Homo sapiens: one gene and its partner. The protein of the gene in region 1 purifies or fractionates together with the protein of each later gene. This does not show direct contact. Each region holds a gene or a part of one and is shown in the gene's direction. Other genes may lie near its edges.

The links.
Region 2: the proteins of UGGT2 (region 1) and THUMPD3 purify together in Homo sapiens (affinity purification with mass spectrometry; one large-scale study listed by BioGRID and IntAct). This does not show direct contact.

The regions. Positions count from the first base shown.
Region 1 is NC_000013.11:95,856,838-95,862,209, reverse strand, and holds part of UGGT2 (UDP-glucose:glycoprotein glucosyltransferase 2 precursor), read left to right. Parts: intron 1-1,326; coding exon 1,327-1,422; intron 1,423-2,534; coding exon 2,535-2,619; intron 2,620-5,372. UniProt on the Homo sapiens protein: Recognizes glycoproteins with minor folding defects. Reglucosylates single N-glycans near the misfolded part of the protein, thus providing quality control for protein folding in the endoplasmic reticulum.
Region 2 is NC_000003.12:9,376,073-9,381,066, forward strand, and holds part of THUMPD3 (tRNA (guanine(6)-N(2))-methyltransferase THUMP3), read left to right. Parts: intron 1-1,746; coding exon 1,747-1,816; intron 1,817-4,430; coding exon 4,431-4,546; intron 4,547-4,994. UniProt on the Homo sapiens protein: Catalytic subunit of the THUMPD3-TRM112 methyltransferase complex, that specifically mediates the S-adenosyl-L-methionine-dependent N(2)-methylation of guanosine nucleotide at position 6 (m2G6) in tRNAs.

The DNA.
Region 1 (5,372 bases):
TGACTCCTTGTTTGGTAAGAAAAATCATGTTACTGTACAGTGTGTGCTTTGAACAAGTTACTGATAGAGAAAGGATCAAGTCCACTCATTGAGATGATTTGGAGGGTAGGTATGTTTGACAGGGGATAATGAAATAGAATCTGAGCAATTTTAAGAGTGTCTTACTAAAAGCTTCCATTAAAGTTAGAAGGTATAGATAAGAATGATTAAGGATAACTGTTCAATTATGGTATAGCCACTTGCTATATTAAAAGGATACCAAAAACAAAATGCTTTGTTAGAAACGGAGATGGTAAGTTTTTGGGACGTTAACTGCTCCAGATACGTAGTGTTGTGTGTCTTATGATGCTTTGACTTTTTTCATCTTAGTTTTAGTCCTAACTTAGAATGATTATTTTTTCTTGCCACTGAATCAACTTCTTTTCTTATTTGGGAGATTACAAGATTTGAAAAATACTTCTGTCATAACAATTTATATTTTGCAAAATAACTTTGATGGTGATTTAAGTTGTTTACCCAATTTTATTCATTCTAAATATCTGTTTATATAAAAGTATTTTGAAATAAATGTTTAGGAAGAAAAAGATGAATTTATACATTATGAATACTGTAAATAGAAGATTCAGTCATTTTTATATATGAAATGGGCCTATACAAAAATGAAATGGAGTTGGTCTAGCTCCAAAAATGTAATGAAAATGACAGCTGGGCCCAGATGACGCTACCATGATGTAAACCAGTAAGTAGACATGGTTCCCTAGTGCTTTCTTTGTCATGGAAGTCATCCAGAGTACCAAGAGCATACTCCATACCCTGCGTGGTGGAGAAAATCTGCTTGGTCAGAGGAGCTCCAAATTGTAGATGGTTTAAAAATATTTTAGCCTGGATGAGCCCCATCAGCAGCACTCACACACCTACCCTGTTACCACATAAATTCTTGCTGTGCCGTAGTTCCACACTTAAGCATTCTGTTCCTTCCCTCATTGACCTGTTTAAACTTTCAGTACACTAGATATGGCCATGTCAAGCTGTAATTCATTCTTTGTTCTGAAAACAACCTTTGGCAACTCACAAAAATTCAAAAATACCAGCCCATTCACCTAAAGACAATATAGTTATATTCCACATTACAAATTTAAAAAAAAACTCATAAAGCTTCAAATGATATTGTCAAATATTTTAATATTAGTTTGTAAATATTATAGAGTGTTTATAGCTTAACTATTTTGAAATACATTTCTATATTGATTGCTTATATTTACTATTTAGGCATACAATGTTTCCATATGTATGTTTAAGAAATGTCAATTACTTTTTTATTCCAAGTTTCACAGTAAGCTTGCATAAAGAAAACAAAAAGGAAAAAGATGTCCTAAACATTTTTTCAGTTGCTTCTGGTCATTTATATGAACGTTTTTTAAGGTAGGTATATTTTTTAACCTTATATTTTGAAAAAGAAATATTTACATGGTTCAAATTTCAAAAAAAAATAAAGGAATATACACTGGGAAAAAAAAAACTCCCACCTCTGTTTCCTTGATACTCAGTTCCTTTTCTCACAGGAAACCCATAATATTATTTTTATATCCTGCTAAGGAGATACATACACACACACACACGTAAATATATATGTGTATATTTATTTATTTATTTCAGTTGTTTAAGTCCTTTTACCCAAATAGTAAAGAACATACTACTTTACACCTTGCTTTTTTTTTTTACTTAAAATTATGAGGTAAGTATATATAAATATGAAATTTCATGAGTTTGGCTTGATTTGGAATATTGGTTTTCTTCAAGGCTAGCAAATAGACATTTTGGATAGGTAAGAATATATATATATAGATATACTCACAATATATATATTTACAGTACTTTATATATACAATATTTATATATATATAATTTACTATAGTAAATTATCCTTTTCCAGTGAAGAAAACCTTGTTTTATAAAAAGGAAGGGAATGAGGGGAGAAATGCATATTGCAAAGTACAAAAGGCTATTTTTAAACAGTTTATATAGAAAGGTCACAGAGAATAACTCAAAAATATTTGAATTGTAGCACTGATACGTTAAAATGGAACTTCAGATTCATTTGTATCCTTTCCATTTGGAGGTTTAGGTTAGCAAACCAAATGACCCATCCAGTGAATTTGTCAATATAGATAGATCATTCAGCTCTTCAGGGTTTGTAGACTTAATATTAATCACACAGTCATGGACAGCTGGGCCCAGGTGAAGCTACCATGATGTATATGTATTCATCCTTACACATTACATACTTGATAAACCATATTTTAGTTTATTTCTTCACATTTCATTGTGAAAACCTTCTAATTCATACCTTCAATTATTTAAAAGCCTTTAAAAGACCTATGTAACAAACCTGTATGTTCTGCACATGTATCCCAGAACTTAAAGTAAAATTTAAGAAATTAAAATTAAATTTTAAAAAACACTTCAAGGTTAAAAAATATATATGAGCTCCTGTTACTGTTAATGTATATTGGGTTTAATATTCTTTTATACAGAATTATGATGCTTTCTGTTTTGCGTAACACCAAAACACCAGTGAAATTCTGGTTGCTAAAAAATTATCTCTCACCGACATTTAAAGTAAGTACATAGCTTTTTTTGTAGAATGGTTAATGTTTGAATAGTAAATTATTTGTATCATTGTAAGTTTATATGATATTTCTCTTTTCAGAATAAGCTTTTTGAAAAAATGGTATTTAGTATTTTTATGTAGCTTAAGAAAAATTCTGTACAATTTTTATTTAGAGATGTTCAAAGGAGAGGACAGAAGACTGTATATTTTTAAGTAAAATCAAAATCAGAATGGCTAGTAGTTTTTCATGATAATGAGTAATTAAATACAATTTGGCAATGGAAAATATATACAGATTTTCAATTAAAAGAAATGGATTCTGTCATTTTTGCAAAGATAGGCAGAAACAGTAGTAGTATCAAGAAAATACAAAGACTATACCTATACCGTAGAAAATAGTTTTACAGTACTGAAACAAAAAAGCTCTTTCGTCTGTGTAGTGTATTGATTGCTGGGCACCATGATCTGAGGCATTTTATATTTAGAAGATTTCAGGTGATCAACAGCTATTACCCTTTACTCAGCCCTATACTCCTGCTACAAAGTATACTCTGTTTCTTCCTATTCTCCCTACAGCATAATCAAATTCCGTGAAATTTAGTGTCTCCGCAGCAATTTGGTGTCTCATTCAACAGCATTTCAAATGAGTTTGTTTTTTCTAGACCAAAAGCAGTGGGAAAACAGAAGTAAAACTAGCCAAGCATGCTTTTATTCCTTAATATTTCTAGGCATGATGCCAAGTGTTTAACTGACGTTATTCAATTGTTTTTCATAACAATCCCACATGATAAGAAAACCAAGATTCAAAAGTTACGTAACTAGCTTGCACAGTTGAGAGGTACCTGAGACCACTTTTAGATTCAATAACTTACTATAAGGATTTATATAACTCCAAAAAACAGCTGTGCTCACAGTTACAGTTTTTATAGCAAAAGGACACAAATAAAATCAGCAAAAGGAAGAGATGCTTAGGGTAGGGTCCGGGGAGACCAGACACAAAGTTAACAGTTGTCCTCTCCCAGTAGAATCCCGTTACAGTGGATAGCACTTATTTCTTCCAGCAACAGTGTGTGAGGGTACTCGTGGAGTATTGCCAACCAGGGAAGCTCATTCAAACTTTGTGGTACAGAGTTTTTATTGAGGGTCAGCTGTGTGGACTTGGCTAACGGCCTGCATGACTAACCTTAACCTCTAACCCCTTCAGATGTTGAACTGATGCTTTGTGGCCCAAGGTCCTCACTACAAATAACATCATTAGCATACAATATCTAGTGTGGTCCGAGATCTGCAGGTAAACGTAGACATTCTTATTAGTCAGGAAATTCCAAGGGTAGAGGATATTTCCTGGGAGATAGGGTGAAGGGCCAGGGTAGGGGATATTTCCTGGGAGATAGGGTGAAGGGCCATACTTTTCTTTGAGCAAGAATCATCCTTTATAGCATAGGCCTGATATGAAACAGCTAATTAGAAACACAGCTGAGATTTGAACCCAGGCATTCAGACCTCAGGTGCTTAACCTTATGTAACAGCCCATTTGCCCTCCACCACCAACAGTGTCTCCTCCTATGCTCATTTGACAGTAGGAAAAAAAAAAAAAAACAGAAAAAGAACCTATAAATATAGATAAGAAGTTATACTATTTTTCTACTAATTTTTTAACATGCTTTCCTAGTAGTCAGACACTGAATAAGGGAGTATTTAACCCAAATAAACTGAGATAGAAAAATCTAAAGATTCTCTTAGCAGGAAAAGATATTATTCACCAGAACAATAGTGCTATGTCTGGATTAGAAAGTCTTGTTCCACTGCATGGCCAAAAGAAATACTGTATCTGAAGTAGTATTTTCCTTCTTTTTGTGATGTGTTTCTTTCATTCAAAATTTTTCTTTTGAAAACTTCTTAGTGAAATATAACATATACTCAGAAAAGTGCACAAATCATGAAATTTAGCTTTGGATTTTTACAAACTCAAACATCTGTGTAAATCAGCAGCCAGATACAGAAGCCGCTAGCTACTTTAGATTTGTTCCTACCAGTTTAGAAAAGTCAAACCTCCTCTCTTCATTCAAATATTTGCTAAAATTATACATACTTACACATAATTATTTTCTGACAGCACTATACAAACTATAATTCCCTCTCCCTTTTAATTTTTCTTCATAGCACTTTTTTCTGTAGATAATAGTTTATTTCTACCTACTTCCTCTAAAATACAAGCCTCATGAAGGTCATAATTTGTATTTCTTTTGTTCACTAATGTACCCTTAGATCCTAGAACAGTGCCCGTTTCAGTGAATATTTGGACACATATTTAATGAAGAAAAAATATTCTTTTTATTTTATCTGAATGTTTTATTTTATTTTATTTTGAAACCAAAACAATGACTCCTGGCAGCTGTTGTACCCCTAATTTCAAGATTTCACAGATAAAATTGGTGCTTCTTGCATTTAAAAAAAAGTATTTTAAATCTACATTGTTCTTACAAAGTCAGAGAAAAAAATTAAACATATAACCAGAAACTAGTTTCAAGTAAGAATCAAGTGGTAAAACGCAAATTCTATATTTATTAATTCATCTTTTCCAATTCCTTTTTCATTTTCTCTCTCAGTATTTGAGCTCTTGAACTAAATTTAGCCCACAGTATATTTCATTAACTGCTTCTGCTTTAAACAGGGAATAAGCTACTTCTAAGCCTATAAGATACTCAAATATGAAATATTCAGACCATAATCACTACTTTGTATTTTTAATCCTTGAATT
Region 2 (4,994 bases), on another chromosome or scaffold:
CATTATCTACTGCCAGGCATATGGTAGAAACCAGGGATACAGAGAGGGTGTTATTTTGGGTGCAAATATTTAAAACCTAAGTAATCAAGTTTAGGATAAAAAAGTGATAATTGTGCCAGAGAGGGGTTTATTGGAAAGATAAAGAGAAATCTTGGGGATTCTACAGAAAAACTGAATGTTGGTTCTCAAGAAGGGTAGGAACCACATCTTGGAAAACCACCAGAAATGTAGGCAGCCATTTTTATCTCCCCTTAGAGCCTGTGGACTCTTGTCTCTTCTCATCTACATGCTTTCTCATCTAAATTTATGTATTTCCAATTCCAAACGACCAACCCACACTGCCTAGGGCTTTTAGCTCTTTGTTCCAAATTCCTGGAAGAGAGGATCTGATGGACATTGTTTTGGTCAGATATTCACCCCTGACCATCAGGAATGGCTTGGAGTACAGGGTGCTTACCCCCTCAAGAGGGTTGCCAAGGATTCTATTGCCATGTGTTGAGGAGTAGGAGCAAGGAGATAGAGCAGGACCAATGTTACAATAAGAACCCACTATTAACCCCCAAGAATCTGTCTTGTGAGGGAGATAAATAGTTATCATACATGCGATAAGTCCCACACCAGCACATGAAAAGATTAGAAGAACAAGAGAAGGGAAGAAACCTACTGACCTGTTTCAGGGTGGGATGCTTCATAAAGAGGATAACAGTTAAGCCACTAACAGTAATGCCTCTAATCTTGAATCTGTTACCTACTAGTTTTGTGTCCCTGGGCAGGTAACTTCATGTTTCCTTGCATCAGCTTACCTTTAAAATGAGAATAATGATAATTATCTAACAGGGTCCTTACTGAGGATTCTGTGAGATAATGCATGGAAAGAGCTTAAGTCCATGCCCAGGAAATACTAAGTGCTCAAAGTAAAGCATTTTTTTTTCCTTTTTTTATTACCTAGTCCCACAGAGCAATTTTTTTATATCAAGATTAGCTTTAAATTCAGAAGGAAAGGAATACTGAATGTCTCATTGCCAGTAACCTTATATTGATGCATGTTTGACTTGAGACATTTTTGAGTCTTTTTAATGTAATACAGGTTTCTGTTGAAAACAACACTGTTGTCAAAAAGTATGCATGAGCGTGTGTGTGTGTGTGTGTGTACACATGTGTACTTTAAGATGTCTGCAAACTAAATTTCATCTGAGAGTGAAATGGGATTTTGGAAGATAGTCAAAGGAGATTTAGTTATAAGGATTTTTTTTCCCCAAGTAATGGAATATACAGTCAACATATCATTATAAATTGATTTTATTTATTTATTTATTTATTTTTGAGACGGAGTCTTGCTCTGTCACCCAGGCTGCATCTTACATGATCTTGGCTCACTGCAATCCCCGCCTTCTGGGTTCAAGCAATTCTCGAGTCTCAGCCTTTGTACTAGCTGGGATTACAGGCACCCACCACCACGCCCAGCTAATTTTTTGTATTTTTAGTGGAGACGGGGTTTCGCCATGTTGGCCAGGCTGGTCTTGAATTCCTGACCTCAAGCGATCCACCCATCTCAGCCTCCCAAAGTGCTGGGATTACAGGCGTGAGTCACCGTGCGCGGCCACAAATTGATTTCTAAAATATGTGTAGATTGGTGTTCCTTCGGGCTAGTGTGGTAGGTCCTCAATCTTAAAGCTTCAGGAATCATCAGTATAGAAGCCTCAGCTTTTGAGTGAGTCTTCACATAGGCTGTTTTCTTTTCTCTAGGCTCTGTGATCCTCTACCTTATGATATAATAGTCGATCCAATGTGTGGAACTGGGGCAATACCAATAGAGGTAATCATATTTCTTTAGCTTTTAGATAAGAGTGATACATCCAGAATATTCTAGACCTAATGGGCAAATTAGACATAATGAAATCTCCATGGTTGGATCAGTGGACCCAAGAGTTTTAAAACAATTAACAATAGAAAGTGGAACTTTTTTGTAAAGAATGTAACTACTTATTTCAAAGAGCCATGTGCCACTGGCCTAGATACATTGTTAGTGACATCTATTCACTAGATTACAGAGGAAGCTGAGAATTACAAACTGCCGATGAGTCCTCTTTGTGTAACAGACAAGCTGGTAGACTTGAATGGGAAAAGATAATTGAAGGCATAAGCATAAACTGGAGGAAGGCAATTTTCTTCTCTGTAATCCACTTAAGTTCCTAGAGGGAATAAGTATAGTTGTAAAAAGGGGAAACTTATGAACATTACTTGGATTTTTTAGGAAGTCTAACAAGCTTAATACCAAATGCTCTTAGTTTTCAAAATTACCATGATATTGAGAGGACTCATAAAAACTGTGTAAAGCAAAGCAAGAAATGGAAAGGCATTTTCTAAATGGAGAATATTTCACAGTAGATTCCCCTTGAATAATCAGTATCATCTATATGTTTTTAAAGAATTTAGAAGAGGGAGCTCCCAGTAAAATCACTGAAGTTTGTGTGAAACATAGTAGTTCTTCCATATAGTATACTGACAGCCAATTTGAATAAACTGCAGGGAGACACAGCAGATTATATGATTGGGTAGAAACTGGACAGATGAGCAAGTCCAAAGCAAGCCCACAAGGGGAGAAATAATCCAAACTGTAATTAGAAAATGGTATCTGTTCTGGGAGTTAAAATCCAAGACTGAAATCATAGAAGTCTACATGTGACTGTGTTCCGTGAAAGCTAGAGAAATTACTGTGGCTTAAAGAGACTGCACAGTAAAAACCCAGTCCTTCTTGTGGCCAAGAAGGATTCTGGGAAGAAAGCAGAGTGTTGTTTTCTAGTATGAAATCATGATATGTGTATGAAATAGCAGGTAAGGTCACCGCATGTCAAGAAATACACAACAGAGCTCCGAGTAAAAATAAAGGCCGAAAAAAATTAAAACATGAAGTTTGAGCCATTTCCATGTAAGAGTAGACATGCAGATGTCAATGTAGAAAAACCTAAGCCGATATATGATCAAAATGAATAAAATTATGAATAAATTGACAAGGTATATATAAAGATTTGTTCACCAAAGTATAAAATACTTGATCTAGAATAATTTTTTTTTTTAATTTAGAAGTGTTATGCTATAAAACCCAATTCTTTCCAATGCTGAAAATCCAAATAGGTTTAGGAAAAAAAAAAAAGAATATTTGGGAATCGGAATCACTGAGAGCCTTCCTCAAACTCTAGGTCCCCTCTACATCCCCACCCACCCAAAATTCTGGGATACTTCAACTTCCCTTTTGTTTGATGTCATCGTAGGATTGTAGACAGGGTATGTTATCACCCTCAAGTGTCTGGGCAAAAGAAAAAGTTATGAAACACTGCACTCATGGATGAGAAGTATGTTACTGTTCACAAAGGAACACAAAGGTGTTTGCTACTCACCCCTAAGCAGAGGCAGACCTTTCCCGGCTTTCGTGTCAGAAACCTTCTGTTAATCTGCATAGAACATTGTTCAGGCCTAGGGTCACGTCACCTCATTCCACAAATGACATGTGACAGCTTGGTATTTATGTTCTGCTGACAGGTTTTTTATTTATAATTACAAAATCCTTCCAGTGATATGGTGGTTACCATTCAAAAGCCTATCATACAAAGGAAATTGCATTTTACTATTATTTTTTTGACCTGGGGTCTTGCTCTGTCAGCCAGGCTGGAGTGCAGTGGTGTAATCTCAGCTCCCTGCAACCTCTGCCTCCCTGTCTTAAGCCATTCTCCCACCTCAGCCTCTCGAGTAGCTGAGACTCAGGTGCACACCATCACACCCAGCTGATTTTTGTGTTTTTGTAGAGATGGGCTTTCACCATGTTCCCAGGCTGGTCTCAAACTCCTGGGCTCAAGAAATCCTCCTGCCTCAGCTTCCCAAAGTGCTGGGATTTCAGGTGTGAGCCACCATGCCCGGCCGGAAATAGCATTTTATTTTGCAATTTTCAAATATATCAGATTATGTAAACTCCCACAACCACAAATCTCAAATATTTTCAAACCGCATTAACTTAGAATTTAGTGTGCCAGACACTGCTGGATGAGGAACTGAATAAAATACTAGACCTGACCTCAGAGAGCTCCCAGGTTAGTTGAGAGGCATAAAGGGGAAGAAATAATTAACCGTGGGACAAGTGCAGTGGCAGAGGTACGTACATACAAAGTGTTTTTGGGAGGGGCACATAAGACTGCTTGGAGAGTTAAGGTTGATGTTGAAAGGGCATGAGGTTTGAGCTGGGTCTTAAGAGATGGGTAGAGGTTCAGCAAGCAGAGAAAGAATAAGAGGGCATTTTCAGCCAGGGAAATAGCACAGTTGACAACATGCAATGTTTTGCCACTCTAGAAAAGCACTGGATTTTCTTTGTTTGTTGACAATTTAATCATATTTTACAGTTTGCTACTTTTGTTTTAACATACACTCTTATCTTTTAGGGGGCCACTGAATGGTCTGACTGTTTCCATATTGCTGGTGATAATAATCCACTGGCTGTGAATAGAGCAGCAAATAACATTGCATCTTTATTGACCAAGAGCCAAATTAAAGAAGGGTAAAAATTTAAAAGATTTCTTAGCATCTTTTAGAGTTAGAGAATCACTTTTTATATTGACTTTATGAATTAAAACTCCCAGTGCATTGTGACGTCATTGTAACCAAAATGAATATACTATGAGACTCCATTTACATTTTTAAAGTTTATTGAAAATAAGTTATATTTTTAAAATATTATTTTAGCGATAATTTCCCCACCATATGCAATTTTTCATTTGTCTTATTCATATGTCTTTTCCCCTACATATTGGAAGAATATTTTATAGACTCATTTTAATTTCACAAAATTTTAAACAGTATATTTTTACATAGGCTTCTTTTTTGCTTTGGGTACAGGGTCTCATTTTGTCACCCAGGCTGGAGTGCAGTGACATGATCATGGCTCACTGTAGCCTCAACCTACTGAGCTCAAGCAATCCTCCTGCCTTGGCCTCCCTAGTAGCTAG